Regions from separate parts of the Homo sapiens genome. Here region 1 is linked to region 2. Evidence: fine-mapped expression QTL. A gene starts in region 2. The other region holds a variant in brackets. All regions are shown on one strand. Distances are between the middles of the regions.

Region 1 (15,912 bases), 27 kb before region 2:
TTGGATACTGTCTTGGAAAAACCAGCTGTATAGGACATTTTTTGGGTTACGGAAATTTGGAACTAGCCTGGATGTTATATGAAATGAAATTTATTAAGTGGAGAGATGAAGAATATTTTTTAAAAATCTAGTGACCAAAAAGAAGTATATATAAATATATACATAGAAAAAGATCTGGAAGTATGTGTACTGAGGGGTTAGTGGTACTCTGTGGGTGAGGGAATTTGGGGTTTTTATATATTTTAGTTTTGCTTGTCTTTTCCTCCTAATTTTCTCCAGTGCATATGTCCTGCTTCTGTGTTAATAAAAGCTCATTATTTTTTTTAAGTCCACACTAACCCATCCTATACAGATGAGTTGTTTTAATAATTTTACTCATTTTTTTCTTGATAAGGATTTTGTAATGTTTGGGACACATCTTTGAACCATGTCTTTAGATTCTACATGCATCTCTGTTTTAAAAATTTAATATTCTATTATGAAAAAATTTAAATACATGCAAAAGTAGATAGAATAATAATACAGTGATTTTCCATGTACCCATCATCCAGCTTCAGCAATTACCAATTAAGTATAGTATATTTCATGTCTATCCACCATTCCTCTCCACCCACTATTTTGGAGCAAACCTCACATGTCCTATCTTTTCATCCATAAAGAGTTCAGTGTTTATATCTAAAAGTTAACAACACTTTAAAAAATTGCAATACCAGTATTATAACAAACAAACAATAAATTAGTGGTATTTCCTTAATATAATCAAATATCCAGTCATTATTTACTTTTTCCCAGTTGTCTCATAGTCATTATTTTCTCTAGATTGTTCAAATCAGTACAAATAAGTTCCCTACATTACAACTGATTATGCCTTAAGCTCTTTTGGTTTATAGGTTTCTCCATCCTCTCCCACCATTTTTTTCTCTTTCAGTTTATTTATTGAAGAAACTGGGTTCCTTATCTTCTAGAATTGTTCACATTGTGCATCTTTCTGCATGCTCTCTTAACCTTTCAGTGCCCAATACTGGAAACTGTTCTCTAGCATGCATCTGAGCAGGGTTCCTATTTAAAAATCTATACAACATAGTCAGTTGTAATACAGGGAACTTTTTTATACCCAAGCTTTTCTATTGAATTAAGATTTTGTGCTAGCTTTTTTCTAGGAGCATTGTGTATGTGTGTGTGTCCACATGTATACAACTAGTTGCTCACACAGACGCTACCTGAACAATCACACAGGCAAGTTGTAGAAATTGAGCCTGGAGAGTGCTAAGAGAGTACCTGAGAGGGCACTCACAGAAGGCTATCAAGGGCAAATGAAGTGGCCTTGACTTTGTCAGTAATTTGTCTCCTCTCAATATTTAAAAATAGATTTGAGTCAATATATAACATCAGAATGTTCATTAATCACCTATCTGGATGGTTCTGGTCATAACATGTATTTATTTCAAACTCAAGTTGTTAATAAGAAGTACTAAAACAAATGTAGATGTGGAATGGTTTTCATTATTCTAGAGTATGGAATCTTATGTATAAATGTAGTACCATGTAAATTCACACTCCATTTCACAAGTCATTGTCCCTCACTATATGTAATAGTGTTTTCCTAGTAATATATGTTTAAGTTAAATAGTTTTAAATAATGTCATACTTTCATTGCTCTAAAAAATTAAATAAAGCTTTTAAACATGTTTATGGAATGTGTTTGTAAAATCCATATCCATAAATTGAAAGGGAGAGTTGATTTCCATCCTGAAGTCCTTTGAGTTTAAGATGCTTACAGCCTTGATTATTTCAACTGGATGAAGCAACTATTGAAATAGGATACATAGGGATAAATTTTAGAGATCAGCTACACAAATGTTTAGGCAGCTGCTTGCTAGATTTCCTTTTCAATGATTACTGGAAAGTTCACCCTAAAAGAACACTCTGGTATAGTGTGATTCTCTTAAAATAATATTTAATATCTTCAGACAGCTTGGTCTATTGCTTTTTATTGTTATGTCCATGTACTTTTTTGTTTTACTGGGAAGTCTACTAAGGTCAGGATTTCCACTGCTTACTTATTGATTTGTCTCTAATGATTGCAGGTTGAAGATGACAGCGATGCAGAGACCTATGGAGAAGAGAATGATGAACAGGGAAATTATTCTAAAAGAAAGATTGTCTCTAACTGGGATCGATATCAAGATATTGAAAAAGAGGTCAATAATGAAAGTGGAGAGTCACAGAGGGGAACAGATTTCAGTGTCCTCCTTAGCTCTGCAGGTATGAATTCCAGTTGCATGCATACTGTTTAGTGCTCTGAAAGTTGCACAGACATTTTATATATGTTTTTAAATTCTACTTTTATAACTAGCAATTTATCCTTTGTTCTTTGGATTTTTAATTCAAGTAAAGGACAGTGTTTCTAATGGCTTGTAAGGGAAAAAAATGAGTTTAAGTGGAAGTAAGGGTTTCCATGTACCGATGTAGAATGACTAAAGTCTTTGCGATAGATAAAAGGCTTTCTATAAGTGGAAAAAGCTGAGCCATGCTGCTGTAAATTTGATAGTCTGAGAAACATAAATGTTTTCTTTGATATTGGAGGAAACATTCCTTATATTTGTAGGAAGCATTATAAAGTTTCTAGAATATATGTTCTCTTTTTTTTCCTTTTTTTAAGTAGCCAGGTATATACATAGTAGTGGATATGCACATATTGGAGCTATATGCACTTGAACACCAAGTTTTTGTTTTTGCTTTTGGATAGTCTTCTCTGTCAATAAAGTGAAAAACCCAGCCTTTCCGTGATCAGCTGTAATCTAAGATTGATTGCACCTTGAGTGATGTGATGCTGGAGAGCAGTAACAGGGAAGAATGGAGGAGTGCTGGGTGTACAGATGGCTGCAGGGTCCCTACTGAGGTGTGGCGTAAGAGTTTAAAGAATAACTGGAAGATAGATTAGTGATTTCCAGGTGTTGGGGATGGGAGGGTGGGAGGCGGATGTGCTTATAAAGGGGCAGCGTGACAGATCCCTGGGATGCTGACACTGATTAGTATCTTGACTGCGGTGGCAGATACACGAACCTACGCAGGTGATAAAATTGTGTAGAACTTAATATACACACGTGTGCACAAATGAGTATGAATAAATTTGAATAAGATTGGCAGATTGTATCAGTTTCAGTGTCAGTCTTCTGGTTGTGATATTATATTATGGTTTTGCAAAATGTTATCATTGGGGTAAACTGGGCAATGTGTACAAGAGATCTTTCTGTATTATTTCTTTATAACTGTGTGTGAATCTGCAATTACGTCGCTAAATAATTATTGCCAGGTTAAAAAGATATAAAGGATGCAGATGTGAGAAGCAGGGAAGTAAAACAAAAATAATACTTTGGGACTGCTTTGAATTTTTTCTTCCTCATGACTTTGATGTTGCTGTTTAGTTCTACCTTTCTTCTTTATCTGCCTGTATTTTTGAATGCTGGCACCAGACTAAGAACAATAAAGTGATGCATTCTCTTCTAACTTAATAGAATGTGCTTTTCCGAGCAGGAAAGAAGTAGATCATAAAATTGTGAGTCAGGAGCACAGGATTCGTCATTACCGTAGATGATTCAAATAGCATAACTTCTTTAGGTTTGTGGATTGCTCTCAACTCATTGACTGTTCAAGAACTGGTAACACTAAATAATTTTTCCTGTAAAATGAGTGCTTCCCTCTTGGTACCTATATTTTGGCCAATTATGGGTTTATAAGCACTTTTCTTCAAGGTGGGAGAAGGGGAATGAAGGTAAAATATGAGCTGGTTAGTTTTAATTCTCAACAGCTGTTCTGCCAGAAGATCTAGGGGGAGAAAATTGAAGTAATACAATGAAATTAACTTGTGGACTAAAGTAGATTTAATTCAATCAGTTGTGTAGTCAGTTACTAGTATCTGTCAAAAAAAAGATACTTCATAAATGTTGGAAGGCAGTTAAAAATTCTAGTCCAGGCTGGGCATGGTGGCTCACGCCTGTAATCCCAGCACTTTGGGAGGCCGAGGCAGGTAGATTGCCTGAGGTCAGGAGTTCGAGACCATCCTGGCCAACATAGTGAAACCCCGTTTCTACTAAAAACACAAAAAATTAGCTGGGCGTGGTGGCGGGCACCTGTAATCCCAGCTACTAGGGAGGCTGAGGCAGGAGAATTGCTTCAGCCTGGGAGGTGGGGGTTGTAGTGAGCTGAGATCGTACCACTGCACTCCAGCCTGGGCAACAAGAGCAAAACTCCGTCTCAAAAAAAAAAAAAAAAAATTCTAGTCCAACCTAGCAGGCCTGTCCTCTGGTTTATGATTTTGGTTATTTATTTTAGCATTTTATATATAATTAAAAACCTGGCATGGATTGAGTCTCTCATGTATTTTTCTTGTAGTCTCTTTGCTTACTGATTTCTTCTGAAGTGGCTTGTTTATCTGTGATTGGTTTTGGTTTTTTTGGTAATTGCAGCTGTCTTGTCTTTTGATATGTGCTTACATTTCTTTCCCACTCTGTTGCTGATTTATCAGTTTCTTCTCAGGATAGCATAAGACTGAGAAGAGCTTCCATGCTTTCTTCATACTCAGTGTTTTGGTGCTATATTGGTTTACTTTCGAGAGGTCAACTTCATTCTCTGATAATAAAAATTCTAGAGTATGCAGTGTTTTCTAGGTAAGCTGACCATACTCCTTGAAACAATTCTGCTTTCTAGTGTACTATCCTTGTTTGTATAAATAAATAGACAACTGAGAAAAAATATTGTTGGTTCCTTAGGTGTGCAATCATAAACTTTTCTAGATATTGCCAAATTGCTTTCCACGGTAAAGATGAGAGAGTTCCTGGTGTTCGTCATCTCTGCAAATAGCTAGTACTGTTGGACTTTTAAATTGTGACCAGTTGATTGAATGGTATCTAGTGTAGTTAATTCAACAGATATTTAAGTACCCATTGTTCCAGCTATTGGCTTAGAGGCTGGACATAGAGTGGTGAACAGAACAGATATAGACACCTGTCTCACAGAGTTGACTTTCTAGAGGGTAGAGACAAACAAGAAGAGTATATAAAATGTTAAATGCTATAATTGCTTAGAATAGAAATAAAATGAGGAAGGGCTGTTAACCAGTTTTAGAAGTAGCCAGGGGTCTTACTGAGAATATAACATTTGAGCAAAGATCTGAGGAGGGTGAGGGAGCAAGTGAGGATATCTATGGGAAAAGTGTCCCAGGCAAAGGGAATAGCAAGCTCAAAGGCTTTGAGATAGGAGGATAGGGAATCGCAAGGAAGGCCAGTGTGGCAGAAGCAACGTGAGCGAATATGCGATGGGGTCAGAAAGGCATTATCCAGCCAGATCGCGTAGTATTGTAGACCATTGTAAAGATGTTTTCTTTTATTCTGAGTGAGATGAAAAACCAGCGGAGGGTTTGAAGAGAAGAGTGATATAACACTCCTGTGTTAACAGGATCACTCTGCTGTGTTGGAAGGAACTGAAGACTGGCAAGAGGGGAGCGGGTAGACTAGTTAGGAAGCCACTGCTACTACTAGTAGCAGGTAGACTAGTTAGGAAGCCACTAATAATAATCCAGGTAAGCAGCGGTGGTGGTTGCTGGGTCCAGAGGAGAGCAGTGGAGGTGGTGAAAAGTGGTTGGGTTAGATCTACGTAGAGAGAAGAGCAGAGAGCACTTGCAAATGCTGGGTATGAGAGAAAAAGATACGTAAGGATGACACTAGGTTTTGGGTCTGAACAGTGAGAAGAAGGGAGTTGCCCTTAACTGAGGTGTGTAAGTTATAGGAGGTACCAGTGTTGCATGTATTAAAAGTGAGATGTCACTTTGATACCTGTTGCAGTCAGAATTCCTTAATAAATGGCTGGCACACTCAATATAATTGAACACTTTGACAAAGGAATCATTTACAAAGGTATGTGTAGAGTCTAATGAAAGCACTGAGGTAGTGCTGTGTTGAGAGGGCAAGTAGCGGCAGAGATGTTACCACCCTAGTTACTGGAAATTTGAAGGGAGTCATAGAGAGTTGGCCTTGGGAGAATGAATCACCTTCGGTGAGGGGACTCAGCCAGTGAAGATGACCCCACTCTGAGAGAGTCAGAGGAATAAACATTCTCTTCCTCCCTCTGCCAAGGCTTCCATAAGTCTAACCTACTGGAAGCCAGAAGACAAGGGAAGTTGTAATCCATATTGGTCAACCTTCTAGGGTAGAACAGGTTGGAGAAGGGTGGAGGATAAATCTGCATTGGCACATGGAAGAGACCCAGCACAACATCTAATAGGCGACATGGAGCAGGCTGCTGGATAGAGGAATGTGGGGTTCAGGATCCAGGCCTGGGTTGGCAATAATACATTTGGGTGATGCCAGCCTATAGATGATATTTAAAGTCGTGAGAATGTATGAGATGACAGGGGGAGTTATTACCTAGAGAAGTACTGATTCCCAGGCACCACAGTGTCTAGAGTTTAGGGGAAAGAGAAGAGACCAGCAAAGGAGACTGAGCATGAGTGGTAGAAGAAAGAACCAGAGAGTGTAGTGTCTTTAAGTGTTTTGAAGCAGGAGGAGAGATCTGTATCAAATGCAGTTGATGACAATGAAGAATTGACTGTTAAATTTAACAGGAAGGTTATTGGTGATCTTCACAAGTGCAGTTTTGTTGGAGTGGTGGCATAAATTTTTTCTTGAATTTAAAAAGAATGTGGGAAGAGATGTTTGAGACAGCAGGTATAAATGACTTAATTTTAAGGAGTTTTGTTATAAAGGAAAGGAGAATAATGGGCTGGTGGGAGAAGTGAGTCAAGACTTTTTAATTTTTTCTTTTTTTGGCATTTCTTTTGTAGTGACAGGGTCTTCTTATGTTGCTTAGGCTGGTCTCGAATTCCTGGGCTCAAACAATCCTGCCTTGGCTTCCCAAAGTCCTGGGATTACTGATGTCAGCCACTATGCTTGGCCAGTTAAGACATTTTTTTAAAGGTGGGAGAAATAACTACATGTTTACTTGTTGATAGATCCAGAAAAGGGGACAAAAATCATAAGGGGAGGGGTGAGAATTCCTGGATCTGTGTTCTTTAGTAGATATGAGCTTGATAGGATCTATTGTGCAGGTGGAGGGATGGCCCATTGCTGGGGCTTGGGCAGTTTTCCAACTGTAATTGGAGGAAAGGCAGAATATATGGGCATAGATATGGGTAGATGGGTAGATGTCATGGAGGCTTGAGGAAGTGGTCTAAGAAAACCATGGATAAGTGTTGTGGAGGAGGTACTGGAAGTGGAAGGAGAGAGCAGAAGGTAAGAAATAGTTGTCAAGGAAGTGGGAAAGTATAGTTTCCTATTTTCCAAGTAGGAAAATGTGGTATAGATGTTGGGTGACAATAGGGGCCCACATGAAGTTGGTATTCATAAATTTAAGGTGAGAACAGGTATACTTTTCCCTGACTCATATTGTGCTGTATGGGTGCAGGCCCAGAAAGACCGGACGGAAGGGTAGGACTTAATCATGATTACAGTTTAGCAGAGCAAATGCAATGAAATGAGAGAGGGAAAAGGAGATGATTAGAATGATTGAAATGAATTTAAGTGGGATAAGGAAATAAGTGAAGATATGAGAGAAGATGAGGGGCAGTAAAAAGATATTGGGATCACAGGACTACAGATTTTTTCAGGGCAGAAGGATTATTGACCTTCTTGAGAAAGTGTGAGTTGGAGAGGTGGGAAGTGGTGGCTGTAGATTAGAATGTTTGACGTTGAGATTTGGTGGGGCAGGGGGTTGCGGATGACGGTAATGATATAGTCTTATATAAAAATACGGGTGTGCCTGGCTGTGAGTTGGTGTGGAGACCTCGTCTTTGGAGTTTTTAGTTTACATTTCCTTAGTTATTACTGAGGTTGAACATCTTTGTATTTGTGGTGCTTGCTTTCTTTGTGAACTGCTGCTCACATTCTTTGACCATTTGGCTATTTTGTTTCTTATTGATTTGTGGGTTAAAAAAAAAGTAGTCTTGATACTTATCTTTTGATATTTGTGTTTGCAGGTATCTCCTGATATGAGATTCACTTCTATAGTGTGTCTTTCAGTGCATTGTTTTAAATTTTAGTTGAATTTATCAATTTTCTATCCTACTGTTTATGCTGTTTTATGCCTTTAGAAATCCATCTTTCTCCCAAGGTTAAAGATGTTCTCCTATATTTTCTAGAAGTTCTAATTTTGCTTTTTTTCCTGAAGAATGTTACATTTTATTGTTTGCTACATTCTTGTGCCATGGTTTTCAGCCCCATCGGGTAATTTAAGGTCTTCTCTACGCTGTTTATTCTAGTTAGCCATTCATCTAATCTTTTTTCAAGCTTTTTAGCTTCCTTGCGATGGGTTCGAACAGCCTCCTTTAGCTGGGAGAAGTTTGTTATTACCAGCCTTCCGAAGCCTACTTCTGTCAGCTCATCAAAGTCATTCTCCATCCAGCTTTGTTCTCTTGCTAGCGAGGAGCTGCGTTCCTTTGGAGGACAAGAGGCGCTCTGGTTTTTAGAATTTTCAGCTTTTCTGCTCTGGTTTCTCCCCATCTTTGTGGTTTTATCTACCTTTGGTCTTTGATGCTGGTGACCTACAGATGGGGTTTTGGTGTGGATGTCCTTTTTGTTGATGTTGATGCTATTCCTTTCTGTTTGTTAGTTTTCCTTCTAACAGTCAGGTCCCTCAGCTGCAGGTCTGTTGGAGTTTGTGGGAGGTCCACTCCAGGCCCTGTTTGCCTGGGTATCACCAGCGGAGGCTGCAGAACAGCAAATATTGCAGGACAGCAAATGTTGCTGCCTGATCCTTCCTCTGGAAGCTTCGTCCCAGAGGGGCACCCGCCTGTATGAGGTGTCAGTCGGCCCCTACTGGGAGTTGTCTCCCAGTTAGGCTACATGGGGTTCAGGGACCCACTTGAGGAGGCAGTCTGTCGGTTCTCAGAACTCAAACACTGTGCTGGGAGAACCACACCTCTCTTCAGAGCTGTCAGACAGGGACGTTTAAGTCTGCAGAAGTTTCTGCTGC[C/T]GTTTGTCCAGCTATGCCCTGCCCCCAGGGGTGGGGTCTACAGAGGCAGCAGGCCTTGCTAAGCTGCAGTGGGCTCTGTCCACTTCAAGCTTCCCCAGCCACAATGTTTACCTACTCGAGTCTCAGCAATGGCAGACGCCCCTCCCCCTGCCAGGCTGCTGCCTCACAGGTCTATCTCAGACTGCTGCGCTAGCAGTGAGCAAGGCTGTGTGGGTGTGGGACCCACCTAGCCATGTGTGGGATATACTCCTGGTGTGCCATTTGCTAAGACTGTTGGAAAAGCGCAGTATTTGGGCGGAAGTGTCCAGATTTTCCAGGTACAGTCTGTCATGGCTTCCCTTGGCTAGGAAAGGGAAATCCCCTGACCCCTTGCGCTTCCAGGGTGAGGCAGCGCCCCGCCCCGCTTCAGCTCGCCCTCCGTGGCCTGCACCCACTGTCCAACCAGTCCGAATGAGATGAACCAGGTACCTCAGTTGGAAATGCAGAAATCACTGTCTTCTGCATTGATCACGCTGGGAGCTGCAGCAGCATTTTAAAAACCCAAATGATATAATGTCCCACTAATGGCTTATGACCTGCAGTTTGGTGTGGTCTGAAGCATCTGATTCATTTAGTCATTTCAGTAACTTCGAAAAATGTCTGAGCAGAAACTCTTTAGTTTAATTAGGTCCCACCTGTCAATTTTTGGTTTTGTTGCAATTGCTTTTGAGGACTTAAGGACTCAAAAGTTTTCCCTTGGTATCCAAGAGGGATGGTTTCAGGACGCCTGTGGATACCAAAATCTAGGAATGCTAAGTCTCTGATATAAAATGGCAAAATATTTGCATATAACCTATGCAAAAAGTATAGATACCTTCCTTTATATACTTTAAATCATCTTTAAATCACTTATAATATCTAATGCAATGTAAGTGCTATGTAAAGTTATACTGTATTATTTTTTATTTGTATTTTTATTGTTGTATTGTTATTTTAAAATAATTTTCTTTATTCATTTATTTTTAGAGAGACAGGGTTTTCCTCTGTCACCCAGGCTGGAGTGCAGTGGCATGATCATAGCTCACTGCAGCCTTGACCTCCTGGGCTCAAGCAATCCTCCTGCCCCAGCCTCCTGAGTAGGTGGGACTATAGAGGTGTGCCACCCACACCTGGCTGATTTCTTCATTTTTTTGTAGAGACAGGACCTTGCTGTGTTGCCCAGGCTGGTCTTGAATTCCTGGTCTCAAGTGATCCTCTCTCTTTGGCCTCCCAAAGTGCTGAGATTACAGGTGTGAGCCACTGTGCCTGGCCAGTATTATTATTTTTTATTTTTAAAAAATATTTTTGATCTATGGTTGGTTAAATCTACCAATGTGGATGGTTGCCTGTATGTTATTTTTTTCTTCCCAAATTAGCTGGACCTCTGGTCCAATTCTCAAATGTTATTTGGAAGATAGACCTTTATCTAAGAGTACACCTTTATCTAAGAGTAGAGAATATAGAACTTCAAGAGTAGAGAATATAGCTTAACATATATTCTCTAAGTAGATTTCCATTGTAACAGTGAATTTTTGAAGACTTGTAATTAAAAAGTGAATTTCTATTTCACACACACTGTATGTATATGTCGATGCTCACTTTGGAAGATAGTTTGCCATTTTCTGATAAAACTGAAGATCTAGCACTTTCACCCTTAAAGGATACTCTAGAGCAGAGGTCCCCAACCTTTTTGGCACCAGGGACCGGTTTTGTGGAAGACAATTTTTCCACAGACCAGGGTGAGGATGACGGTTTCAGGATGATTCAAGCGTGTTACATTTATTATGTGCTTTATTTCTATTATTATTACATTGTGATATGTAGTGAAATAATTATACAACTCACCATAATGTAGACTCAATGGGAGTCCTAAGCTTGTTTTCTTGCAACTGGATGGTCCCATCTGGGAATGATGGGAGACTGACAGATCATCAGGCCTTAGATTCTCATAAGGAGCGTGCAACCTGGATCCCTTGCATGTGCAGTTCACAATAGGGTTTGGCTCCTATGAGAATCGAATGCTGCTGCTGATCTGACAGGAGGTGGCGCTCAGGCACTAATGCAAGCAGTAGGGAGTGGCTGTAAATAGAGAAGAATCTGCTCACTTGCCCACCACTCACCTCCTGCTATGCAGCCCGGTTCCTAACAAGCCACAGACCGGTACTGATCCATGGTCTGGGGGTGGGGGACCCCCTGTTCTAGAGAAACTCCAGCACGTGTGTGCCCAAATGTTCACAGCTGTATGTTCAGAAGAGCCTCAGATGGAAGCAACGCAAATATTCATTAATAGTGGAATGAATACTTAAATAAGTGGATGAATCTTTTCAACATAGCATGAAGTAAAAGAAACATGCCCACAGAATTCGTTAGTATGATTCTATTATATAAAGTTCAAACACAGGAAAAAAAAACCCTATTTTTTAAGGATGTATATTTAAATACTAAAGTGACAATCAAGGAAATGATTATTCCAGATATCATGATTGCGGTCACCTCTAGTGGGGAGATGAGGTGTAATGATTGAGGAGGGCCCGGTAGCAGGTGTGGTGTTGGCAGTATTCTATTTCCTGGCCTGGATGATTGTTATTTATGTTGGTTTAATAATTATTCTATAAGCTCATATGTATTATCAATTTTTTATTTTACAGATCTCTTTATAAAAGGAATAAAACTCTTTAAAAGTGGATTTCTAATGGTAAAATTTCTGTTACCACCATAGAGGTGGGAACCATTTTTGGAGAGGCAGCCCTTTCCAGCCTGCCTCCTTCCACTTGTGCCACACGGGCATTGCCTGCTCTGTTTGTTTCTGACCACTGACAGTGACACTCTCATTTTTATTAGTGGTGGATATGGGAAAGGGGACGGTTGTTCAAAGTCATACTTTTTCTGGTAAGATTGTGAGTCTTTAGGTGTCTTTGTAGAACTCTTTCTGTTAGTCTCTGAAAGAGATAATCATGCCTTTGGCTTTTCTTTTTGAACAGTATTCTTGGCAGTTCTAAGTTACGTTTCAAGAGCTTTGAAAATGGCACCCCACTCTTACCTTCAAACGTAAAAAGTAAGATCTATGAGAAATTTCTTCTGCCCTTCATTTTTTTTCCCCAAAAGTCAAATCATTGAATTCATGCAATATGCATTGTCTGTTCCTTTCAAGATGTCACAGATAGCCAGAGTTAGAAAAATGTTTAACAGTGTGAGCAGAATGCACTGGATCAATATTGAAGAAAACGTGGGGAAAATATTATGTGCAAGTCTGTAAACACTATTTTTAGAGATACAAATAAAAACGAAATAACCAGACTGCAGTTTGGTCAGTATAGTTGTTGTCTGTGCATATTTTTGCTTAAAACTATTATATATTTTCTTCAATTTAATTTTATGAAAAGCTATTTTGGGTAGGAAATTTTAATTGTAATGACATTGGAATTTCTTCCCTCCTCTGTTCCTTGTGCCAACAATTAGACTGAAGGGAAAAGAAAGGATATTACTCTAGCAGCCTGTACTTTTAAATTAAACCTCGAACCTTTTCTTTCCATGAGGCAACAAGACAGTTTTATTTGTCCTCATTGATTCAGCTCATTTTTTTCCCTCTTCTTGTATGGTATATAGTTTGTGCCAATATAGTCTCATATTACAAAGGCAATATAGTAGAAGAAGATTCTTCCCTTTGATATTTAAAACATCTGAAATAACACAAACAGAACTATAAATTAAAAAATTTGTTCTGGCTGACAGGGCTAAAAAAATTTTCAATTGGATAACCAAAAAAATAAAAACAAGGAAAACTCCGATAACAAAAAAACTTTTCCTTGTAGCTGAATATTGAATATTGGGCCTAATTTGATTTTCTTTTTTCTTTTTTTTTGAGACGGAGTCCTGATCTGTCGCGCAGGCTGGAGTGCAGTGGCGCAATCTCGGCTCACTGCAAGCTCCGCCCCCCGGGCTGACGCCATTCTCCTCCCTCAGCCTCCCGAGTAGCTGGGACTACAGGTGCCCGCCACCACGCCCAGCTAACTGTTTTGTATTTTTTTAGTAGAGACGGGGTTTCACCTTGTTAGCCAGGATGGTCTCAAATCTTCTGACTTCGTGATCCCCCTGCCTTGGCCTCCCAGAGTGCTGGGATTACAGGCGTGAACCATCGCGCCCGGCCTGATTTTCTTTTTAAAAACCTTCAAAAGATAAGAGCAGAATTTGTGTGCTAAACTGCTAGTCTCCAGCGCCATTTTGTGTTTTCTGTTGTTTTGAAGCAATTCTTTGTTTTTGCTGGTCCAGCTGCATCATTTTCATCATCCTGAACTATCATTTTCCTGCCCTGAAGTTGTGCATTTCCTTTAGCAGATCCAGCCTAGGCAGCTTTATTTCCCTTTCTTTTTCCTTTAAATCTATGACCTTTTGATTCTCATTTGTTTAGAGATTCTTGGTGATTTTGCATGAGTTTTTTTCAGTGTTTCTTTTTCTACCTTTCTGTCTAGTAATTTCCACATCTCTTCCTTGTTTCTTAGTCATAGGTTACAATTGCTGGCTGCTTCTGCTTTATTTAGTGTTTCTTTAGCTTTTTTCTTACATAGAATTAATCTCTCTTTTGCTCTACTGATAAAGTGTATCCATTTTATTTCCCCATGATTTGAGAAAAGGATATGTGGGTGCTTTCTACAGGTCACATTATCTAAGTCATCCCAAAATTTCAGCAAACATTCAATCTAGACATTTCATTTGAGCATCCTCAGCACTTCTGTTTTTTTTTTTTTAAAGTTTATTTTTGTGGGTCCGTAGTAGATATATATATTTACTGGGTATATGAGATATTTTGGTACAGGTATGCCATGCATAATAATCACATCATGGAAAATTGGGTATCCATCCTCTCAAGCATTTATCTTTTGCAGCACTTCCATTTTTCTTCTTGCTCTTGCTTAGCTCTGAATTTAGTTTATACTTTGTTTTGCTTCATTCTTGTTTTGCAAAATAATCCTCCTTGAAAAGTGTTAGAAGGTCTGTATTTTTATACCAGGGTTCAGGGCCAGGGTCTCTATAAACTTTTTATTGGATTTAATACCGTCAAACACTGCACGTGTTGATTGCTTAAATGCTTTGTGTAATGTTTTTCTCATTTGAATATTTAGTGCTTGTCCTTTATCTTCTAATCTTTAAAAGATTAGACATAAAATAATTATGTCATCAGGAGTTGCATCCATTGGGAAGCCTTTCATATGAATGGATCTGGTTTTACATCATTTTTTTCTACTCATCAGTTGCCAGAGGGACATTTTGTACTAATCAGAGGGAGGTTTGTTTGGAAAAATCTTCTGATTTTAGTTTTATCTGTATTTTCATTAGTTCTGCCTTTGATTTGTTCAGTGCTTCTATTATATTAAAATCTGTTGTTAGGTAATTTAACCTGTTGAATTTTGTTATTTCCAGAGGTATCCAGCTTTCATCCAATTTAGTCTGTTCCTTTTAAAAATTCGTCTTACGGCAAATTAAAGTCATCAAAATGATACTTGATTTGATGGTGGTAGGTTTCGGTCCCCAGAGCAGCCATTGTTTTCACTATCACCATTTTTGGCTGCTGTGGTTATCTTTCCGGTCCCAGGCCCCCAGAGCCGAGCCATAGGATCGCTAGCAGAGACTGTACTTTCAAGTTCACATGAAGGACTGTTTATTTTTAAATGTTTATTATTAGATAATTTAAGCTAGTTATACTGGACATGGCTTAATGAGAGAACGTTAGTGAATCTTTTCTGAGTTTAAGTTGTATTCCAGATACTCTTCTGGTTATCAAATGACTTATATTCCAGTTACTCTTCAGTTAGACAACTGGCTGCATCATCAAATCATCTGGGTACTACATTCTTTTCTTTTCTTTTTTTTTTCAGACAGGGTCTCACTCTGTCGCCCATGCTGGAGGGCAGTGGCGTGATCTCGGCTCACTGCAGCCTCTGCCTCCCAGGTTCTAGCGATTCTCCTGCCTTAGCCTCCTGAGTAGCTGGGACTATAGGCACGCACCTCAACGCCTGGCTAAGTTTTTTTTGTTTTGTTTTGTTTTTTTTTGAGACGGAGTCTCACCCTGTTGCCCAGTCTGGATTGCAACGATGCAATCTCGGCTCACTGCAACCTCTGCCTCCCAGGTTCAAGTGATTCTCCTGCCTCAGCCTCCTGAGTAGCTGGGATTATAGGCGCCCACCACCACGCCCGGCTAATTTTGTGTATTTTTAGTAGAGACGGGGTTTCACCATGTTGGCCAGGCTGGTCTCAACTCCTGACCTCAAGTGATCCTCCTGCTTTGGCCTCCCAAAGTGCTGGGATTAGAGGTGAGCCACTGAACCCGGCCTCATCTGGGTACCACGTTCTAATAGCATCTAGTGTATCCGTCTCAATTGCTATTGTCTCTTCTTTGTATGATTATCTTTTAGACTCATACCTCTCCTTAAAAAAATTAAGATAATTTTAGGTGGGTTTTGGGAAGGAGAGCAAATAAATGCTTCTGATCAATGTCATATTTAATTGGAAGTTGATAAATTCTCTTTACTTGATCTGGAAAGATAATAAAAGGTTATTTTTGATAAAGTCCTTAAAGAAAATCAGGGTAGAAGCTCTTCTAAAATAAAACACATGAAACATGAATTCAGAGACTATGAAAAGGGACGGCTGTAGTGTTAGTATTGTGGTAGGAAAGGCATCTTTTCAGTAGTGTGCCTGAAGTGTAGTATATGTGTTTAGGTGGTGGAATAGAAGGAACACTTGGTGGGCGTCAGGGGATCTTAGTTTTGGTTTTGGTTGTCTTAGAACCTTTTTTTTTTTTTTAAACTCCAAACAAAACCAGCTGTTAGAAATAATACCTCCTTGCTTTAATCTAGGGGTAGTTGTGAC
Region 2 (15,912 bases):
TTTTCTTCCTTTCTTTTTCCTTTTCTCTTTCTCTTTCTTTTCTTTTCTTTTTTCTCTGTTTTGACAGGGCTCGTTCTGTCACCCAGGCTGGAGTGCAGTGGCGTGTTCACAGCTTGCTGCGGCTTTGACCTCCTGGGCTCAAGCAATCCTCCTGCCTTGGCCTCCAAAGTGTTAGAATTACACGGGTGAACTACCACACCTGGCCTGAAATAGTCCTTTCTAATTCAAACCTGGCTGTTTTGCCAGGGAGGACTTACTTGCTCTGAGACCATATTATTGGAAACTTAGAGTGTAATAGAGAACGTTTGATTCTTCACTTGTAGAAATAGTCAGAATTTCAAGGTTCAAAATTTCACAGACATAGACATAGGGCTGTAATGAGAAGGAAAATATGTATGTACCATCCTTTCTTCCAAAGTGTCCTTGGAGGAGAGCAAGCATAAGAATGGTGCTCAGTGAGGCCACGAGGCTGGGATACAACACCCTGAATCAAAGCACGCTGTCATAGCCTCCTAACAAAAGAGAATGTCAAGGTTTGAAACCGGAATTCATTATAATATGCAGTATTTTATGTACTTGTAAATAAAAGTAAGGGAGTATAGGAGGAGATGATAAGGGGAGGATTTGTTTTGAATCTGTCTCATCTTCTGCTTTGTTGAAGTGCTAATCAGATGATCTTTCTATCCTACCAATATATGAGAAAAAGTGTCTTAGAGTAAGAGTATTGGAGCTTGTTCTTGTTATCCTAAAGGCAAGCTTCCCTGTCTCATGTAAGAACTCCAGCTTTTTGTGTTCCCTTTAAATGTATATTTTGTGTTTTTTGTTCATTTTGTTGCTAAAAAAGGTAGTGCGGATTTTGTTAGTGAGGAGACAGCCTTTCAACCTTCCTATCTCCTTGGTACCAATTTAAGCCAAAAATTATTTTTTTCTATACAAGATATTAACCTTGCCATAACTAATTCATGCCATTGTGACCATGAGTTTAGCTATCTCTTTTCTATATAAGGAATCACTGCTGGGAATTGGTTTCCTTCCCAAGGGACCCTGTAATTTTGATTATTTTACTTCCATCCAGGATGTCACTATACCACAGGAGGCTGGCTGACTCAGGGATGGGAAGAAAAGGCATAGAAAAATAAAGTAGCTTATGTTTCTATGCCTAGGATGTTTGTTTCAAAAGTTCAGCTGGGGATCTGAGACAGGAAAGGTACAATAAATTTATGTTAAAAATTTCAGCTGGTCATCTGAGACAGGAGAGGTACAATACATTTATGTTAAATTTTTTTTTTGTTTCTGTCTTGCTGTTTACATTTATTTAAAATATTTTAAATGGAGATATACCATTATGCCTGCAGAAGGTCCTATTCCTGATACTTAAAAAGCCTAAATAAAGATATATAAATTTTAACCAGTTCCTAATACACTTACAGAATAAAAGTGTGTTGTCTACTGGAGTTTTTCTTCCCAGATCCATTTATGGAGAGGCCATAAAAAATCTGATGCGGGCATGGCAGAAATTTATATTAAAGCTGTGTAATAAGTCCATGGGTATTGGTTGTTGGTTTAAAATAACTCTACTTAAAATTGAATCTCAAGAATATATTTGAAAATATTTTAAAGTATTTTAGAGAAAAAAGCGACATTACTCACTTAGGAGATTGACTTCAAAGCAGGAATCATTTGAGATTTTGGATGAATAGTTATGAGAATTCCTTAGTGAACAGGACAGTGCTGGAGATGATCACTGAATGCAAATGAATACATTGTAATATAAATAGTATGTCATAATAATTGAAACATGGCTTTTTTAGATGGAAGATCATATTTCCTCTTTTAAAAGTTGATTTTATCCAATATATCCTGCTGGTTGTAATATTTAGTTATATATGGAGGTTCAAGCTTAAATACTTGAGCCCCATCTCACTTGCAAAAGCAAGTAAATTGCAGAGTTCACAAACCTGGAAACAACTCAGGACAACTCCAGTGTTTGGTATAATGTTGTTAGGTGAAATAATACTAGAATATTATGCAAGGGACCTGGTATTTCTTTCTTTTCTTTTCTTCTTTTGAGACATAGTCACTCTGTCACCCAGGCTGGAGTGCAGTGGCACAATCTAGGCTCACTGTAACCTCCGCTGCCCGGGTTCAAGGGATTCTTCTGCCTCAGCCTCCCGAGTAGCTGGGACTACAGGCATGTGCCACCACGCCCGGCTAATTTTTGTATTCTCAGTAGAGATGGGATTTCACCATGTTGGTCAGGCTGGTCTTGAACTCCTGACCTCATGATTCACCTGCCTCGGCCTCCCAAAGTGCTGGGATTACAGGCGTGAGCCACCGTGCCCAGCTGGGACCTGGTATTTCTAACAAATTCTGTTGTTTTCTCACACTGAATTCTGAGTTCTATTATGACAAATTCTCACTTTTTGTTTCTATGCTTTCTTGATTGCAAATAATTTTTTGAGATTTTGTTAATTTTAGTTACTTCTGGAATATTCCAACCCAAATTATAGATGTTTAGTCCTTTTTAAAATCAACTTATAATTTATTTGAATCCTAGGTCTTAGTTGCTTGATCAATGTTTAGGCAGCAGAATAATTGAGTAGCATTCCGCATAGCTAAGTAGCACTGTTTCGCAACCTGTGCCCTCTTGCTCTAGAAAATACTATTGCTTGACATATACCAGGAGTTTTAGGTTAGAGTATTTGGCAGTGTCTATATGGAATCAAAAACTTGCATTAAAATGGAGAAGAATATCTTTGTGAATCCTCTAGATGGCAGAACAATTACAACAAACATATCTTAGAAGGTGTCCAAGAAGCGTGTGGAGGAGAGAGTGTAGAAGAGATGGGGTGAGAAGGGGACCTGCGGGCTCTAAGCTTTCTGTCTCAACCCAACCAGGGCAGATCTGCTCTTATATGTCTTATATCTTGATATTTTATCTAAGATGGTGTTTGAAAGAAGGAACATGGCTAAAAACATGATAGGATGTCAAAACTCAAAATCTGTTGTTCTTTTTTTCCTTCAGGATAGAGTTTCGCCCTTGTTGCTCAGGCTGGAGCGTAATGGTGCAATCTTGGCTCACTGCAAGCTCCACCTCCTGGGTTCAAGCGATTCTCCGGCCCCAGCCTCCAAGTAGCGGGGATTACAGGCATGCACCACCACACCCGGCTAATTTTTGTATTTTTATTAGAAACGGGGTTTCAACATGTTGGCCAGGCTGGTCTCAAACCCCTGACCTCAGGTGATCCACCTGCCTCGGCCTCCCAAAGTGCTGGGATTACAGGCGTGAGCCACTGTGCCCGGCCCAAAGCTCAAAATCTTAAGTTGTGCACGCCAACATCAAATCACAGATTTCTGTGAGGACGTACACATGCATTATTCATGTACCCTGAGCATCTTCAGACTATAGCTGCCCCCACCCCAACACACATGTTGATGAATTCTAGAGTGATGCTGGCCTACTTCAACACTCTGCTACTTTAATTTCTATCATAGGGGTTGAGGCACAGCATAGTCTTTTAGCCTTTGTCCCTGCTTTTAAAGAAATCACCATTGTTGGTATATTGTATGTTGGCATAAGGAGAAGAGATGACTTGGGGAGATATAACATAGGTAACTTGCAAAGATTCATTCCTCACAGAGAGTGAAAGAGGGAGAGGGGGCAGGTAGAGCATCCAACAGAATAAATGTAAGATTTTAAGTGTGTCACTTTCTCCACTCATCTTTGAATAGAAAGATGACTGTAGTATCTCTTCAATTTCATTTGCAAAGTACTTATTCAAATTCCCCTGAAGTCACTTTTTAATAGCAAGACCAATTTAGATCCTTTTGGATTATCGATGAAATTCTAGATCTAGTAGTATAGCAAACGTGATTTCCATATGTCAAATAGAGCAAAAGCATAAGGGATAAATTTGCTATCCTGTATTTGCATACCTCATAATATCATATACTATCCCTAACAGATATTATCTCCTTATAGCTATTATTTCAGTATAAACTACTTTAAAAGACTCCTTCATTAGACTTTTCTGCAGTTACCTACTTGCCTATTATCAGTGAAATGCAGCTGAGGTATATTTTAGGATCACTATTCTTCTGGCTGTCTGAGATTGTACCTGAGAATGCATTAAGATACATTTTCACATTCATTTAACACATCTGCTGATTAACTAGTCCTGAGCTTACCTTGGGAATAGACAGATAAATTAGATGTGGTCTTTACTCTTAAGGCCCTCAACCATGAAAAATGCAATTTCGTATGTCAGACAACTATATAAATAGATTTTCTTATTTTTTTAACTTTTAGATTTTTTTATAGAGATGGAGTCTTGCTGTGTTGCCTAGGTGGGTCTCGAACTCCTGGCCTCAAGCGATCCTCCAGCTTTGGCCTCCCAGAGTGCTGGGATTACAGGTTGCGCTTGGCCATAAATAGGTTTTCAATGGAATCTAACAAGGTGTTATGAAAGAAGTATCCTCAAAGTGTTGGGGAAGTTCCTAGGCATGAGAAGCTCTTCTGTAGGTATTACCAGAAGTTACCCAGAAGTTACTGCATGTAGAGGACTGTCTTTGCAACACAAATGAAGGGAAGGTATACAGTTGATGAAATATTAAGAGTTGTACTATGTTATATACTGAGCCTGATAGATTTACACCAACAGCTTTCTAGGTTACTGTACCAAAAAATTCTATAAATAGCTAAGGATTTTTAGTTGATAACTGAACTGGAAATCATCTCTGGCTTTTGCTTCTTAAAGAACACATTATTCAGTGCTACATTTCTATAGTGATAATCAGGAAATAAGAAGGCCCACGTAGTCTGATGATGACAACAGTGTGACGTCAAACAATGTCTATAAAAGTGGTAATGTTTTCTGATTGGTCCAGATTCTTGAGTTATTTCACTAATAATTTCAATACAAAAAATGGAGAATGTCAGATCTTTAAACAACTGCTGAATAACCCATTGGTTGTAATGAACCAGTACATAGGACTGAATAAATGCTTTAAGAATTCTCTACACACCACTGGATCAAGCAATCTGTGTAACTGTAGATAATGAGACTTCAGCTTGACTTGTAATTATGCGTGGAGTAGTTAACTGTATTTTTTACACATCATCTTTGTATAGGCTCTGAGTCTAGGAGGGTCAGTCACAAATGACTGATACTCTGAATCAGGGTATTGCCACTAATCAAAGGACAGACTGCACATGTGTTCAGTGTGGAAGGATTAGTTGGTCTGCTTTGTCTTTTGGCTACTGTTGCAAACAAAGATTACAAAAAGAGGTCTGTATATGCCTATGTGTTTGTAAAAGGAGCTTTCATTTTTGTTTCCTTAATTGAACCCTAACTCCTGATTTATTTTTATTTATTTTTTACAAATATTTGTTGAAGACTTTCAGAGAACACAGAAGTTTTGCTAATTCAAGACAGTCCTTTGTTTTTTTGTTTTTGTTTTTGTTTTTGTTTTCTGTTGTTGTTTTTGTTTTTTAACAAATCCATGCTGTTTTAGAAAGGTGTTAACCAGCCCCCTCCCTGCCCTCATACTAGTCCATGTGTCAGATACTAATTAATCTATGTCATGGGATCACTTTATAATCTATATTTAGGGATCTCTTTCTCATTCAGAGACACCGTCTTTCTCATTTTGGGTGTTTTGGTAATTTTTCAATTTTCTGAGTAGCATCAGTATTTCTGCTTGAACCAAGGTGAAATTTTGCATCTATTTCTCAGTTCTCTAGGGGCCTCTTTCATGACTGTCTGCTTGCTTACTGGTATTTTCCTTACTCCCGTTTTATCATGGTCTGTGAATTTAACCAACATGATGTTTACTCCCGCTTTTGAATTATTAATGAGAAAACTGTGAGATGGTACTTTTATCTTTAATAGTTGATGCTGAAAAAGTGACAAATGCAATAAAAGCATCTTTCTCTAATTCAGTTCCTGTCATGCATCTCTTTAGTGTCTTGGTGATATGACTTGAAATAATAGTGCTTACATCTCTCTTTTAGCTAGTTCACACTGAAAGCATATAATCATCTGTTTGATATCAGAGCCACTTCCCAGTCACAGATTGTGATGTCACAAACCAAAGATTGTTCTCTCTCAGCAGGAAGAAGCTGGAGAGGAGATGATCTTCATGGTGAACTACATCCTTATTCAAATTTGGTCACTTCATAAGGAAAATTAACCATAATAAGGAACAAATATATTGGCTAGTTGAAATGCCCAGTTGAATTAAGCTTGAAACACGGTGCCATTATAATGGAATGAAAAAAATTCCTTATGAAAACTTAAAGTTATAATAATGAAGATATAAGTAAATATATATTTAATGCATTTAAAAATATTATGCAATGTCCCTTTAAGTTGAATGCTAACACAGAAAAATGAATTTTAGGTATGTTTCTAATTTTATATACAAAATTATGTTGCTTGGTATTTCAGACAAAAATTACTTTTTAAGATTGTTATGTCAACATACACGAAATGGATGTGTTCATTTTGACCTAGATGCCATTTTTATTTTATCATAGTTTAAATAAAAAGCTTATAGCTTTTGGATAATTTAAAATGACCAGAATTTAAGGATATAGCAATAGGTATTATTATAAGGATATGGCAGCCAAAATATTTGCTCCATTTCTATGAAAGGAACTAATGATACACAATCACATTACTTTTACAATATAATACTTTTATATAATATGTGTGAATGAAATACATTCTAAATTGCAGAAACAAGTAGGCAGGTCATTGACTACATCCCAAGACTGTTCAGAATCTCTTTAATTGTTAAATCTATCAATAACAGGGAAAAGTTGTTATAAATAAACCAAATCTTCAGGTACTAGCATAAAATCCCTCATCCATTTGTACCCATGAGATGTAAACTTGAAGCAGTTTTCAATTTTTTTTTCACCCTACATGAAGAAAATACAGATTATTCCAAATTGCTGTAGGGTATTTTTTTGAAAGCTGTTACCAAAACTTCAGTAATCACTTTTCTGAATGGGTTATTATAGAGCAAAGCCTTGATTTGGAAAGGAAAGAAAGTGAAAATTCACTGGGATTGATGCTGACAAGGACCAAATTGGGGTGGAGCAAGGTAGTATTCATTTGCCCAGCCATTGTCATTAGAAGGTGAGTTATAGAAACAAAGCCCCCAAATTAGTGGGATATGAGTCTCTGTTTACATTACAATGAGTAAATAAAATCCAGAACACTTAAGGAATATTGTTATCTGCCCCCTTTAATTCCATTTATTGGAAGCAAATTGAGCATAGTAGAAATTTCATACTTTTGTCCAAGTTAATTAAAAAATCTTTAATTATAATTTAAAATATTGATTAATATTCTTCATTTAAAATATCTACATATTTTTGAATCATGTCTGTTTACAAACTGTAATACCATAATAAGGAGGGAACAGATGAAAAGAACCCTTAAGGGTTCAGCTGTTTCTCAGTGTAGGTAAACAACAACAATACCACCCTTAACTTTTAGTTATGTCTGGTATGCATAAGAAGTATTTTGAGATTTCTAAATAAACATTTTTTTCTCTGAAACAAATTGTTGTATTAGATAATCACTACTTGTATTAAATTGCTGCTTTCCTTTGGTACTGGAAAATGACAGGTAAGTTTCTGTAATGACTTCAGATGTAAAAGACTTATGATATTTAAGGTTATTTATAGACTGTCTTGAAAAGCCTGAAGGGATCATATAATTTACTCCCTTAACTAAAATTTGAAAAAAGGAAAGAATTCAGTGAAATGGAAGAGAATTTCTAATTTGACTACTTTTAGACAAGTATTGAATACTTACTTCTGATAACTTTATGTATATTACCACAAGATCTCCGTAGTTAGGTGTGATATGCTCTTGTTTCCCTGTCTCCTCTCTTCTAAGATAATATAAATATTATTTGTTGTAGGACTTCTTTATGATAAGGTGCTTTGGACCTAAGTTTTCCAATGAAACTCATGAAAACCAATGTGGTTGGGATTTCTGCTAAATGATAACGTTTTGTTGTTTTTACATAAGATTGTCACTCTAGAAGTCTCATTATGCAGTGATTTCTAGGGAATTTCTTAAAGGCACTGTATCTTTTAAAATCCTTTGATGGCTTCACTAGTGCTTTGCATTTTACAGTTTGGACCACTGACCTGAGTCAAAGCTTTTGAGGTTTTAAGGTACCAGACATCTTTCATCTTTTTATCCTCTTGTTGAATCAGAAAAATGTCTTCATTTAGTCTGTTATAAAAATGTCTAGTATCTTTAGGATAAATTAGCCCTATCCTACAAGAGTGTTATACCTCGATTTAGTAGAGATTATTTTTCTTTAGTATGAATGAAATGACATCACAGCTTTTTTTTCTTAGTAACAATAGAAATCAGTCATTGAGCTTTTGTTCCTTTATATGAATAAAAATATTTAAAATGCTTATTAATTTTTCTTTGTTTTATCAAGTACTCTGGGAAACTAAGTTCATTTGAATATTGTTGGTAAACATTATCTGTGAATGGCTCTTATGCACCATTCAGGGCTCTCTTCATGCATTTTTTTCAAGCTATTAAATAAAACAAAATTGGGATAAAAATAAAGACAAAGATGAGACAAATTCAATGAAAAATGAATGGGAGTTTTGGATGCTTTATTATCTAGTTCTGAGTGACTTGTTTATGCAGCATAAGTAAAAACAAGCGTTTACCTCAGCTTAAATCTGCAAAAGCTTAAGGAAGGGTTGCAAGAAATTCAAATCCACTATCTCATTCACAGCACGAGCAGATTTAATTTCAGTAGACAAGATATAAATTAAGGTTATAAAATTAAATCTTACCTGGCAGTGGTTTGTTTGAAGCTCAGTAATTTGAACTCTGGCTGGAAATAGTAAGCTTCGAGACCCAAAATGCCTTCTCTACTTTCCTTTCATGTTTTATTTTGCCAGTGTTTTATTTCTTGCAGTGTCTTTATATCTGTATTCCTGATAATCCTGTAGCATTAGTTAGGATAGTATGCGGTAGATGAAGACTCCATTTGGATAGGATTATAGAACCAGAAGGGTGAGTTTTGCCTTTATCTGGTAACAGCAGTTGATCTGATCACAAACAATCTGAGTGTTGAGAACTTATTAAAGATTCATTGAATGCTTCAGCAATGAGAAATCCTGGTTGTTCCTATATGCATTTGACCCCCTGGAAAAGTTCTGCTTGTTCGTATTTCAGAATTACACACGCTTCCAAATCAAGCTGCTTTAAAAAACATTATCTGGACTAGAAGCATGGATGTTCTTGCACTCTTGCTTTCCTTTCTCCATACGAACTTTTCAGTCCATCAGCTTCCTTTCTGTAGAAGATGAAGGCATTTCTTCTGTCCTCCTCATGCTTTTGTAACCCATGCTTCTGGTACCCTGTTTTTTGAATAGTGAGGTAAAAATCCAGAAGGAAGTACGGCTTTATCATGTCTCTGGACGGTGAGCGTACTTGGCATGAATGAAGAGCTGATAGGAGCTATTCAAACCAGACAGCAAACTGATGGGATGACGCTGCCATACATAAAAAACTCATTAATTACTTCCCCTGCTGGACAGCAGTATATCCTGAAAGGAAGAAAGAAAGGAGCAGATGATGATATTCGTTTTGATAGGTGTTCTCTGTTTGAACAGCTTGTCATTGAGAAGAGAATCCAGGAAAAGCTGCAGCTTCAGAGTGTGATCAGGTAGAATGGGCAAGAGTTATTTGACAGACAGTTAAGTGACGTATTTTGGGAGGAAAAAGAGGGCTTAGCATGGAGGTAGCTGGAATAAGGTTCCAAAATGCTTTTGAAAATGTTCATTTTTTCCTGTTAGTCTTTTTGGCTAGAAGCTTTTTTTTTTTTTTTTTTTTTTTTTTAAGCTTTGCTAGGCATTATTCACAGACATGTTGCTGAGTTATTTTCTCATATGGTTTTCCCTAAAGATGGAAAATAATTTTTAAAAGTCTTTGAGATAGAAAGAGTATACTGTGAGTTTTAAATATTTGTAGCAGAGAAAAGGCTGCCTTTTTTTTTTTTCCTAAATGTATGCCTGTTTTTATACATCTTTTGGGCATATGCGTTTTGTTGCTTTGGAGTAAAGCATTATAAGTCCTCATTTGATACAAACTTTTAACAGGGTCTTCATTAAAGCTTTTCCTTAAGTTAGATGAAATCCATATTAGCTGTATAAAAGAATAGATTTTTAAATGTCAATTTCATAATTTTTGCACTTCAGTTTTTAAATTTAAAATTCAAATTTTTAAAACTGCACTTCAGTTTAAAATTTAAATTTTAAATTTAAACGTTTTTTCCCTGCCTGAGTTCTTTATGAGTGTATCTAGACAATATAATGTTTTTAAATTTTAAAAAATTATTATGGAACATTTCAAACTTACACAAAACTCTGAAAAATAATACAAAAATAATACATGAACCTCCAGAAACTCATTACCAAGATTCAACAATTGTCAGATTCAATTCTTTGCTAAAATATTTTAAAGCAAATCTCATTTCACCTATTTGTACTTTAGTATGTATATTTTTAAAGTATGGACACTTTTTCACATGACCCTGTGCCATTATCACACCTAACACATTGGCTATAATCCTCTGGAGTCATATAATATCCAGTTCATTTTAAATTCCTTGTGTCTCAGAAACTATGTCTTTATGTAGGTTTTTTCTGAGTGAGAATCCAGACAAAGTATACACTTTAATTGTTAGCCAATAGAATTTTAAACACTGACAGATGAACATGTATGAGAAAGAAGTGAATTTTAGTTTTATAGTGGTCTTTGACACACATTTGTAATAGGAATATTTATGCAAGAGAACATATCTTTAGAATATTTTCTTGAACTTTTCCCACTTAACATTGCATGATACTGAAAAGGATTGTAATTTCATATGGTAATGATTGGTCATTATATACTGGTCACTTCTATAATAAATACCCCAAGTTTTAAGCCACTGATTATTAAGCCATTTCAATGATTGAATGTGACTTAGAGTTCAGTGGAGATCCAAAATGAGAGAAGTAAAAATCTATCAAATGGGGCCATTGTGTTTATGAGGATCGATGACTATAATATTATATATGTTTTTCATTAATGTCAAGGTTTCTTCCCAATGGATTTTAATTTTTCTATGAAGTTTGAACTCCTAGCTCCTTTCTGGTAAAGCATAACATTTGGCTGTCCACTTAACTTTTCCAAGAATACAATAGCATGAGGTCCTGAAAATAACTTGTGTGCCACACCCTCACCTGTCGAAATTCATTCTCATTCAGGTTCTCTGTCTCTTCTCACTCTTATCTCATCTTTCAAATTGGCTGGATGAAAGAGAATGGGGGTGGTGAATATGGGGAGCCATTAAAGGGGTGTAGATGGAAATTATAATTTTCTGTTTCCATCTAAGCTCAAAGCCACTGCTGAGGACCGTGCTCCCATTTTTTATGGAGGGCAATAGAATACTTCTCTCCCAAGGTGCTCACTCTTGAGTATCTCTTGTCATACGTCATGTTATGGCATGAACATTTGGGAGCTTTGTGTTACACTTTATGTTCTCAAATTATACCTTGTCCTTTAAATCTTGCTGAATAAGGACTATATGTGCCAATCACTTTTTGAAAGCTTAGTAAATAGTTACTGATTATCACCATTTAATACAGATAAGCTGAATGGGAAAAGGTGAGCAAAAATGCTTCCATTCTCTTTCCAAGTTGTCTCTGAAATTTTTCTCAGTCATTTATAATACAATGTCAACATAGGAGAACACTTTGCAAATATGCAGGTTCTGCTGGAGAACTTTGTAGGGTGGGTGAAAAAGTGGTTATAGAGGGAACTGGAATAATAGATTATGAGTGTATTTTGGGTGCAAATATTTCATATCATTATCTCTCAGTACTTTAGCTATAAACTGAATTAATGGAAAAACATTGACTTAAGTACTGGCCTGTACAGTTCCAAATTATACTTCAGCCATTGTGGAAAGTAATTTTCTCCAAGACTTTGCTCTTGGTATTCCTGATGTTGTTCTTTTTTTTTAATAAAAAGCTGTATTTATTTTTACTTTCTACAGGATGAACTTTCTGCTTTGAAGCAAGGAGTTGTCTACATGAACTGTATTGTTCAGAGATCTAATAGGTTGAGTAGCTAGTTGGGTGGATGGCTTGTTTTTCCACCCTAAATATGAGGAGGAGGAGGAAAGTCTTAGGGATATGGACTTTTATGTTTTCTTTGATACATATAATAAAGCACATTTTTCTTTTGTTCAGATGTCTCAACTCTCATCTCCCTTTTTACAACTCTATGTATTCTCATATTTAAACTGAACTCTCCCATTGCCCACTGTAAAGTTGGCTAAACAACTTCAGAGGCATCACAGACTTTCAAATGAATTTATGTATAAGATAAATGATTTTTTCTTTTACAAGGTCCTTTTTTGCTAGAACATTTGGTCCATACCTAGAGTTATGCTCATAGCTGTTTACAAAATTATAAATACTTTTATAAAGAAAAAAAGTCTCTCCTTTATGCTCTCCAGTTTTTAGATGAGTAGGATTTGTGGTTAATGATTTCTTCCATGGCAACGGCTTCCTTTTAGGGCATTTCAATATGTATAATCTCAATTGAGTGTGATTATTTTTCAGTTAATAAATGAAGAGAAAAAGTTGCATTTTAAGAGAGTATTGTGGACTTATGGAAGCTGTTTCTAAAATAAATATGCTTTTAAATTCTTGTTGAAGAAATCAAACCTTTGTTGACTTACGTGAGTCATGCCATGCCATTTTTAGCACATTAATTGTAATAATAAACATTTATTGACTCCTTACTTGGTACAAGACCAGTGCACTTGGTTCTTTGGATTTATAATGCATAATTTTTAACAGCTCTGAGGCAGACTGTTATCATTCATCTTCTATAAAGAAGGAAACTGAGGTACACCAAGGTTAAGTAACTTGTTCAAGTTTACCCTGTTATTAAGATGTTGAACTGTGGTATGAACCCAGCCTAGGTGGTTTTAAAGTCCAGTAAGATTGCCTACTGAGAATAACCATCATTCAACTTAAGCGTGAGACTCCCAGTATAATGTTGAAAGAGTGGCGTCTCTCCAGCATGACTAACATTCTACAAAAATGAAATCTGCAGTTTCTTGGAGATCTTAGATAACCTGGAGAGTTGACTGTCTTTAATATATAGGGAATGTGTTCTTCTTGTTTCTATGTCTTGAATTTATAAAGGGTGATTTATTTTTCTTTCCAAAATTGTATTATGGCCTCTCAAATAGCAATGTGTTTTAAAATACTATTCATTTATGTTCTATTAAATTTTTTTTTAAAACTAAGTAGTGGTATGAGGGGGGATATGAACTAGAGTGGTTGTACTTTGCAATACAGTTGATTATTAGGAAACAGTTGCTGTCTTCATATGTATTACATTCGGGTAAAACGATTGCATTTTTTTTCTTTTGGCATCAGTTTGTTGGAGAAAAAAAGATTGCATTTTTATCTTCTAATTTAGACACTTTAAATGAATCTTTCATTTTTAAACTTCTTTAGTTTATTCCTCTACCATAGCACCCACTTTTTTCACTCATCTCAGGCCTTAACCTGTGACCTATTATTTGGCTCTTTCCTAATTTGTCATCCTTAATATTTTGACCTTATACTGAACTGCAGACAACCACTAGAGGTCTCCAGACCACACTTTAGAAAGCTCTGATTTTACAACCATACCCTAGTAAGTGGAACAGATACGTTCGGGGGGAGATTGGGTACTAATATTCCTCATTAAGTATTTGTGAAATGCTTCCTATATTCCAGGTTCTAGAACTATGCTATGTCCTGGCGGTAGACTTTTTTTTTTTTTAAGTAAGGACTTAGACCCTAAGAACCCTGTAGGCTAGTGGGGACACTAACATTTGAACGTGTGGTCACAAGATGTCACGTTAGGCACACCCACATCACATCCTTTTAGATCCTAATGACTGGAGTCTTTTAGATTTCTAAGTTTGTGAATGCCCCACTAATACTCTCTGTAGCGAGATCATTCCTGCTTTCTTGATGAGCCCTGATACTGCATCAATCTGGCAAGGAGCCATTCTCTGGGGGCAAATAGGATTATTTGGATGGGCTTTGGGGTTTTTTTGTTTGTTCGTTTTCTTTTTTTTTTTTTTTTTGAGACAGAGTCTCGCTCTGTCGCCCAGGCTGGAATGCAGTGGTGCGATCTCGGCTCACTGCAACCTCTGCCTCCCAGGTTCAAGCAATTCTCCTGCTTCAGCCTCCTGAGTAGCTGGGATTATAGGCGCCCACCATCATGCCTGTCTAATTTTTGTACTTTTAGTAGAGATGGGGTTTCACCATGTTAGCCAGACTGGTCTCAAACTCCTGACCTCAAGTGATCCGCCTGCCTTGGCCTCCCAAAGTGCTAGGATTATAGGCGTGAGCCACCGCGCCCGGCTGGGTTCTGGTGTTTTACTTTCTGATACCCTTCTCAGCAGCTCTGGCATCTGATCTTTAGGGAAGCACTTCATACAAAAGCCAGCCACTGCCTGTCTCAGTGAACAAGGCAGACCCCACAGAGATTTTAGACCTTCCATTTCCATTTTGCTTTATATCAGATAAATTTTAAAGAAAGGATCTATCTTCCTCTTGGATCTCTTGTCTGTTAGGGCTGTTTAAATAGACAGGTATCTCATAGAAACAGTCTTAGGGACATATTCTGATTAACCCATGCAAAGCACCTAGCACAGTGCCTGGCACAGAGAGGGCAGATGCTTAGTAGATGTCAAGAGTTGTCATAATTATTATGGAATTTAATTTAATTTTACTGCTGGAAGGGACTGTAGAGATAATTTAGTCCTGCCATCCATTTTACACAATAAATTTTAGTGCTCTTTTTCCTTCTCATATAGGCATCTAACTGTTAGGAGTTGTTCTCTTCAGTTATCCCATGTTAGGAAGGCCACAATTTTGATTTAGTCATTATCCGCTTAATGATTATACTTCTGTATGAGAATTTTTTTTTTTTTTTTTTTTTTTTTTTTTTTTTTTTTTGAGAACGAGTTTCGCTGTGTCGCCCAGGCTGGAGTGCAGTGGCGCGATCTCGGCTCACTGCAAGCTCCGCCTCCTGGGTTCACACCATTCTCCTGCCTCAGCCTCCCAAGTAGCTGTGACTACATGTATGTGCCTTCATGCCTGGCTACATACACATTTTAGTGGGAACATGAATAAATGAAAATGATCTTGATCATAATTGTATGCTATGCAGAAGATAAGGGGGGAATTATAGACAGACAGATATTATGCAGGGAAATTTAGTGATTTGTTATGTTTTTAAAGGATTTGAGTCTGATGTGGCATGTTAAAAAATTTAGGAATTAGCAAGAGGTTATGATGATGATCCAGGGAAAATATGATGATTCCTTAGACTAAGGTAATAATAGATGGAAAGAAAGGGACAGATTACAGGAATATACAGAGGTATAAATGATAGTTTGCTGATGAATTAGGTATCTAGGTATGATGGGGAGAGAAGTGTTGAGAATGACCCTGAGAACTCTGGCTTGAGTAACTGTGGCTGGAGATGCAATATGCTGAAATTGGGGAAGCTGGATGAGGAACAGGTTTGGGAAAGGGAAATCAAGAGAGAATATTGAACAAGATGGGCTGTGGATCTGGTAATTCTTACCTTCTGAAATACTTGAGGCATGTGAAGGAATACTTTACAATTGACATATGTGAGAAGCAATACACTGTTACATGTTATTTTTTTAAATAGGTCCTTTTTTCCCCCATTCCTTTGTTTTTCATTACGGTTTTTAACCTTACTTTGTTTTTTCCTGTCTCTGCCACTTACATGTAACACCAATCATAACTTCTCTCCGTGCAAG

Which allele goes with the higher level. Alleles are on the strand shown, and positions count from the first base shown. SD is a standard deviation of normalised expression in the study named.
For the expression in tibial nerve of the gene that starts at base 9,499 in region 2, allele C in region 1 goes with a lower level than allele T (large effect, 1.1 SD a copy in GTEx).

Evidence for each region. PIP is the estimated chance that this variant, and not a neighbour inherited with it, causes the effect.
Region 1: its variant is fine-mapped to the expression of CHRM5 in tibial nerve (GTEx, PIP above 0.99).

Annotation. Positions count from the first base shown.
Region 1 is chr15:33,989,385-34,005,296 of GRCh38, reverse strand. It overlaps AVEN (apoptosis and caspase activation inhibitor), which reads left to right. Exons shown (of 6, transcript NM_020371.3): 2 at 2,088-2,265. All of the region lies in intron 1 of CHRM5 (cholinergic receptor muscarinic 5), which reads right to left. Among named protein-coding and RNA genes, the nearest start is that of CHRM5, 29 kb to the right of the region's middle. The variant C/T (reference allele first, on the strand shown) is at 9,028.
Region 2 is chr15:33,962,084-33,977,995 of GRCh38, reverse strand. CHRM5 (cholinergic receptor muscarinic 5) reads right to left here and starts at 9,499. Exons shown (of 3, transcript NM_012125.4): 1 at 8,846-9,499. All of the region lies in intron 2 of AVEN (apoptosis and caspase activation inhibitor), which reads left to right.